Linked DNA regions of Homo sapiens. The protein of the gene in region 1 purifies or fractionates together with the protein of each later gene. This does not show direct contact. Each region holds a gene or a part of one and is shown in the gene's direction. Other genes may lie near its edges.

The links.
Region 2: the proteins of MAB21L3 (region 1) and KCNAB1 purify together in Homo sapiens (co-immunoprecipitation; one large-scale study listed by IntAct). This does not show direct contact.

The regions. Positions count from the first base shown.
Region 1 is NC_000001.11:116,117,899-116,121,398, forward strand, and holds part of MAB21L3 (protein mab-21-like 3), read left to right. Parts: intron 1-3,033; coding exon 3,034-3,174; intron 3,175-3,421; exon of another isoform or gene 3,422-3,460; intron 3,461-3,500.
Region 2 is NC_000003.12:156,459,578-156,463,077, forward strand, and holds part of KCNAB1 (voltage-gated potassium channel subunit beta-1), read left to right. Parts: intron 1-249; coding exon 250-294; intron 295-3,500. UniProt on the Homo sapiens protein: Regulatory subunit of the voltage-gated potassium (Kv) Shaker channels composed of pore-forming and potassium-conducting alpha subunits and of regulatory beta subunits.

The DNA.
Region 1 (3,500 bases):
CACTCAGGCCTCTGGATGTGCATGACTCCTTTTGGGTGGGAAATCCTTACAAACTGGTTTTGCTCTCTGCTACCTCTTCTTTCACCACTGACTCTTTTCTCTCAGCATTTAAACATGTTTACACCTGTGTGTCATTTTGCAAGGAAAAAAAAAACTGTTCGCATCCCTGTTGTTTTGGTTTTCCCCATGGTAAAAGTTCTTGGGGCCAGGCACGGTGGCTCACACCTGTAATCCCAGCACTTTGGGAGGCCAAGGTGGGCACAGCAAGAGGTCAGGAGATTGACACCATCCTAGCTAACATGGTGAAACCCCGTCTCTACTAAAAATACAAAAATTAGCCAGGTGTGGTGGCACGTGCCTGTAGTCCCAGCTACTCGGGAGGCTGAGGCAGGACAATCACTTGAACCGAGGAGGCAGAGTTTGCAGTGAGCCAAGGTCACACCACTGCACTCCAGCCTGGCGACAGAGCGAGAATCCATCAAAAAAAAAAAAAAATTCTTGGAGGAGTTGCTTACCTCTGTCTTCACTTGGTTTTCTTCCATTCACCCTTAATCCACATTTAATGTGCACCTCTTCCCCACCATTAATGCTAGTGCCCAGTGTTCCCCCAATGCAGCAATCCTATTCTAGCTGTCAGACTCCATGGACATTTGGGGGCCTTAACTCACTCAAGCACTTACTGTTGACTTTGTTCTTGAAATTCTTCCTTTACTTTCAGGACCTCTCACGGTTTATTCTCCCACTTCACCACCTCTTCTAGGGCAATTGTGTTCTAAAAATATCACAGGAACAATTGCACAGGCATGAGGAGCACAAATTCTCTCTTTGTGCGCCTCAGGCCTGGCTCAATACCTGCTATTTTCTCATTCTAGAACAACTTTCATGCCCCCTTTTTCCTAGCTAACGCCTAGTAAGCTTTCAAGATACAACTCCAACACACTGTGCCTCCAGAAAGGCCTCCCAACCTCCAAACTGGATGAAGTATCCGTTTTCTATGTATCCATAGCATCTGTGCAAACCTCTACCTTGCACTAGATTGCAGTGATTTTAATTTCCAGGTCATCTGTCTTGCTTTGTCAAGTTATCTATAAACCTCGTGGCAACATGTATGCACAAAGCACAGCATAAAATGGATGTTCCACTCAAATTACTCAAATGGAATTGAATCACAACACAGATGGGAAGTCCTATGCTGGAGAGGACCCTTAAGTTTTGGCTTCTAAAACCTTTATTTTTGTCATTTGTTATTTTTCCCATAATAGCATCCCACAATTGTATTCTGTGCTTACATTTGTCTTCCTCACTACTGTGAATGCATGGCCGGGTCTATCTTGTGCATTGCTGTGTTCCAGCATGTAACAGTGCCCACCACAGAGGACATGCTAAACAAATACTTACTGATGAACTGACCCTATATGTGATATACAACGTGTCTAACAATAGGTGCACAGTCACATTCTTATACTATGAACATATGAAGTTGGCTTGCTGGTTGATGAGAAGTATGAGTGAGGTCTCAGGTGACTGGCCTAGTTGATGACTTAGTTTAGGAAAACAGGAATCTCTTTGACTTGGACTTTTTTTTTCTGGCTGTCGTGATCAGTTTATGGGTGTCTCAAAATGACTCTAGAATATGTAGAAACAGCCATTATACCAAATTCAGAGAGAGTATAAAGATTCATAGATGGGCATTAGATTGAGATGTATCAGATATTGCTTGAAACTGGCCCCTGGCTGAAGGAGCCTCTGAAGGAGAGTCTTGCTGTCATGACAGCAGCTTGTAGGTGCCTCCTGAGCAAGATGACAAAGTGCCCCCTCCATTTCAGAAAAAACTTGCAGACCCTTCCGTATCTTATTTGGATTTTTCTGTGTCTCTTCTGGAGTTTACTAAAAGTTCCTTTGTGTTTCCCACAAACATCTATTTCCCTAAACTTTAAGTATCTGATTAGTGTTGAGTTTTCTATGAGAATTTCCCAATTCTTCATAACTCACTGTGGTAACTTTCTGTCAGCAGAAACATGCCTTTTCTTAAGGGTCTAGAAGCAAAAGGCAGGGGTGAGTACGGAGGCAAAGAGAACCATCATTTACTGATGACATCAGTGGGAAGCAGGCTGCTGGGTGCTGATACAAGTTAAGTGGTTTAATATTCACACCATGGGCAGCAGGCGTGACAATACCATGGTAGAGTCTCACCATGGTTCACAAAACCCTGTGTGATGATCTGGTCCCTGCTTTCCTTTCCAAACTCACCTCCTATCACTTTCCTTTTGCCAGATCCAACCACAATGGCCTCACTGCTAGCCTTAGAGCATTGCCTACGTCAGAGGAGGAACATGGAATCTGCTCTCCTAAGCTGTCTTCAGCCTCACTCAAATGTCACCTCTTTAGAGAAGTCTTCTTTGTCCATTGCCCACCCTAACTAAAATAGCTGCCCCTTTATTCTCTAGTCCCTTATCATATTTTATTTTTCTTCATGGGACTTATCATACTTGATATTACATTATACACACACACACACACACACACACACACAAACACACACACACACACATATATATATACAGGAATACATATATATACACATTTATATGTGTGTCTGTGTGTATAATATCAGATATGACACTATATATTATAATATTGATATTATACATTACAATTATATATAATATAGTATGTATTATATCTACATTTATTCCTATATTTTCAGCTAGAGGGCAAGTATCTACATTGTTCACTGTTGTCTTAATCACTGTTGTGTCCCCAGCACCCAGCCTGGCACCTGCTACATAGTAGGTCCTAGATAAATATCAAATGAATGCATCTGTTACAGAAAAGAACATTGAGGCACCACCAAGTGTCTTCTCAATGGAGTCAGACCTAAATTCATCTCCCCGGCATCTTGGGAAGGCAGGATTTTTGAGCTGAACTCCCTCAGTCACCCCTTGCTGTACCCTTGTCTCCTCACTCTCTTATGCTGGTATCTTGGGGCCCACAGAGGAAATAACCACCATTGCTGGTCCCTCTCACACCCAGGTGGACTTGAGGCGCCAGCAGATTTCCCAGGCTGTGGAGGAGGTGCAGAAAGTCGTTCATCATTTGACCACAAACATCAGCAACCAAGACATTAGATTTCAAGCTGTGCCTTACTCTGACACGTACAATGAAAATATTAAGGTAAGCAAGTCTTGCTGTCTCTAAGTGCCACCAACAGAGCCAGGACACTTGGGCAGGTGAATCTCAGTGTGTGACAGATGCTTGCCTCACTCAGAATACTCATAACAATTCTTGTTTTCATAGGTATTCTTAGTTTTTACTATTTACAGTCTCATTTTATACATGTCATTTCAGCCAGCAGGGTGCCTTATGCCTATAATCCCAGCTCTTTGGGAGGCCAAGGTGGGAGGATGGCTTGAGGCCAAGAGTTTGAGACCAGCCTGGGCAATGTAGTGAGATTCTGTCTCTATAGAAAAAGAAAAAAAGATAGATGTTATTTCCTTTGA
Region 2 (3,500 bases), on another chromosome or scaffold:
AGTATCAGGACTGCAGGCGGTCTCCTGCCAGCGTGTCAGGATTTGGCAGGTGCTTCTGGAATGCTCCGGAGCAGGATTTTGCAGGCACAAGCAGAAACAGCGGAAACTGTGCTACCAGCCGAGAGCGGCTTCTATTTTCGGGATATGTAGGCACTGAGAGTTCAAACAAGGAATGGTTCTTGTGTTCTGGATTGACTCTTGCTTTTCCAGGACACTGCATTCTAAGACATTATCTGTTTCCCCTTCCAGGGCTGAAGTGATTCTGGGGAGCATCATCAAGAAGAAAGGCTGGAGGTATTGCATTCGCCATAATTATTTGTTTTTAAAAAGGTATTATTTTGCACCAGAGAAGGAAAAATAAAATTATATGACACCTGACCAAAAGGCTGTCAAAAAAAATCAACTGTTTTTAAAGCAATGATTTATAGTGGCTTGAAAATAAATGCCGGCAAGTTCACTTCTGGAGCTTCAAAAATTACTGACTAGTCATTGATCACAATGAATTACCAAAGAGTTGAGCAGAGAAGGGGGGGATGTTCATGAAATATTTGTGCATGAAAAAGTGACAATTTCATGGCTTCTGACTGCCATTTGTGCTAATCTCTTGCAGGAAGTAACTTGACAAGAAGCTGATTATCCCCCCACACACATGCATTTATGTTTGCTGTTTATTTTATTAACTCTGGATGCAAAGGAATGATGAAACAAGAAGACTTTGGGATAAATACCCCAAAGCTTTCTTATCTGAACACATTTAGTCAGCATCTCTCCTGTGTGCCCAGGAACCCTATTATCTGGCTATTCAGAACAATGCTTCATCTGCTATCCTTGAGAAACATGAGGGGCTGTGCTTACACGTCCCTTTCCAACACCTCCTGTAGCCAAAGATAGTGGTAATAAGGGAAGCTATAACATCTATGGGCAGTGGGGAGGTAATACTTCCCCATTTCACTATAGATTTCAGCCCCAACAGCCACTACTTCCCCAGCACGAGTACAGAATTAAGCAAAGCCCAGCAAAGGTTACTGAACAAGTTTGGGGTCCTCCTCTGCCCTGGCATAATATCTGCTGATTACCAAATAAATGACAGTGTAATGATATTAGTGAAGACAACTGTGGAAAGAGCTGTGTACTCATGCTTCAACACTTAGCATGTATTTTCTAAAATTTAGTCTAGAGAAAATGGACATTCTCAAAGAGTTCAAGAGTGGTTTTATTATGCTTTTGCACACATGATTTAAACTCTCTCTAGGAAGCAAAACTAAGAAGGTGAAACAGACCCATGTATTTTTAGGGCTGCTTACTCCCCACTCTGAGATAAACTTTTGGTAGGAATAGAGGGCCCTGTGGAAACAGAAAACCAAATATTTATAGAGATATGAACAAATAAACTTTGATGACCTACTTTCTCCTTCTCCCTTCTCCCTCTCCCCCATCCCAGGGAACTGTAAGGATGTTAATAGAAAACTATATTCCACCTTATATATGGAAAAACATTCATGTTCCCACTCAGTCCTTCACCTTGCCTGAGTTACTTTCCCACTCAGAGTATTGGTTTACCCATCACTGCCTAAATAGAGACTGTATCCATTCGCTATGGTTGCTGCAACAAAGGACCAGAAACTGGGTAACTTAAAATAACAGAAATTTATTCTTGCATGTTTCTGGAGGCCAGAAATCCAAAATCAAGGTTTGACTTCAGGGTTGGCAGGGCCATGCTCCCTCTGACATTCTGGGTAAAGTTCTTCCTTGCTTCCTCTTAGCTTCCAGTGGTTGCCAGCCATCCTGGGCATTCCTTGACCTGCAGCTGCAGCACTTTAACTCTTCTCTCATGTGTCTAAGTGTCTTCTGATAAAGACACCAGTCATATTGGATTACGGGCCTCCTCTACCTATTAACTAATTATATCTGCAGTGATCCTATTTCCAAATAAGCTCACATTCTGAGGTTCTGTGGGTTAGGACTTTAACATATCTTTTTGGGGTACACACTTCTTCAATTATAACAGAAACCTTGGAGATAATTCCACTAATAGTACAGTGAGGTCTGCAACAAGGCGTAGGCTGCTGGAGTACATCTAAGGAAGGAGGGAAAGTATCGGTGCAGTAGCTCTTTTCTTTCTTAACACCCAGAGAACATTAAATTATCACTCTCCATAGCTGCAGAACCTATTTTATATACCTTTTGTAGAAAATAGATCACCATGCATTTTCCACAAACTGCCTTTCATTCTTGCAAATAAAAACTCAAGCTATTATTATACTCCATAATGTTTATATCAGTTCACAGTTGCCCCCGTGAGACTGGTGAAAAGATAAACCATATCATCATAGCTTTGAGCCTATAAAAGCTGTTTCAACTAGCACACTTGACTTCTGGTCCTGGCGCTACCACTTGCTAGCTGTGTTATCCAGGACAAGTTATTACACCTCTCTGATTCTCAATTTACCCACCTGTAAAATGGACAGCATAACAGTTCATGAAGTGTCATGCTGACAGAGTGAGATAAGGTATGCAAAAGCATTTTGAAGGCTGTGCTGTATCACTGTAAAATACATTATCATTCTCTACCCACTCAGAAGAGTTGCTCTAATAGCCTCTGTGGGAGTCAGTGACAATTTGCCAGGCTGCTGTCTACTCTTGCTCTTTGAACATATAGTTAATGTGCATATCCATATAGGCCAAATGTTTTACAGGAAGCCTAACTTTGAAAAACTAAGTCTGTGGCAGTGTTTGTATAGAATATGCAGCTTTGAATAATCAAAAGGACTGCATTCATTTTTTATAATATTCCATCCAGCTTTTTGTTGAAGGTTGAAAGTGCTAAAGGAGACCGGGCTCCCCTGTGGCAGATTGCTATTATAATAGGTATCATGAGGTTGATGTATTAACCTGGAAAGTACATCAGCCCTTTCAGGTTGTGTTATCTCCAGGTACATGTATTTATCGACCTTCCATTATAGTGATTCAAATTACTTTTGGGGGGATTCACTTCAGTGGGATGGGGCTGCTAACATTTTCAACAAATTTTTCTTGTTGCAACCAAGTTGTCAGAGTTGTCACCATCATTCCCCATTGGTTATCATTAATCATACTAGGTTTTTATACCTGAGAGCCCTGAGGCGTTGACCCTACAGATGATGGAATTATAAACGCCTTATTTCAAGCGCTCCTGAAGATTGGCCTTAACCTTTGAATCTCAAATGATGTTTTCTCTAGACCAGTGCGATCAAATTACATACCGAGGGAAACCAAATTGCACTGAGATCTGCTTCCCAATTTTATTGTATACCTGTAGTTCTCAAGACATATTTCTTATTCCATGATCATAATGCTAGGATTGCATTTCCTGCCCTTGGTTGTGGCTTTCAGAAGGTAATAAGTTTGCTGATGAGATATGCACATTTCATTCCCCTAGCAGTAAAATGGTAGAAACTTGAGTTAAGGACTTTAGGACTGTTTTCCTAAAATGACATTTCCATTTAATAAGACACTCAAAG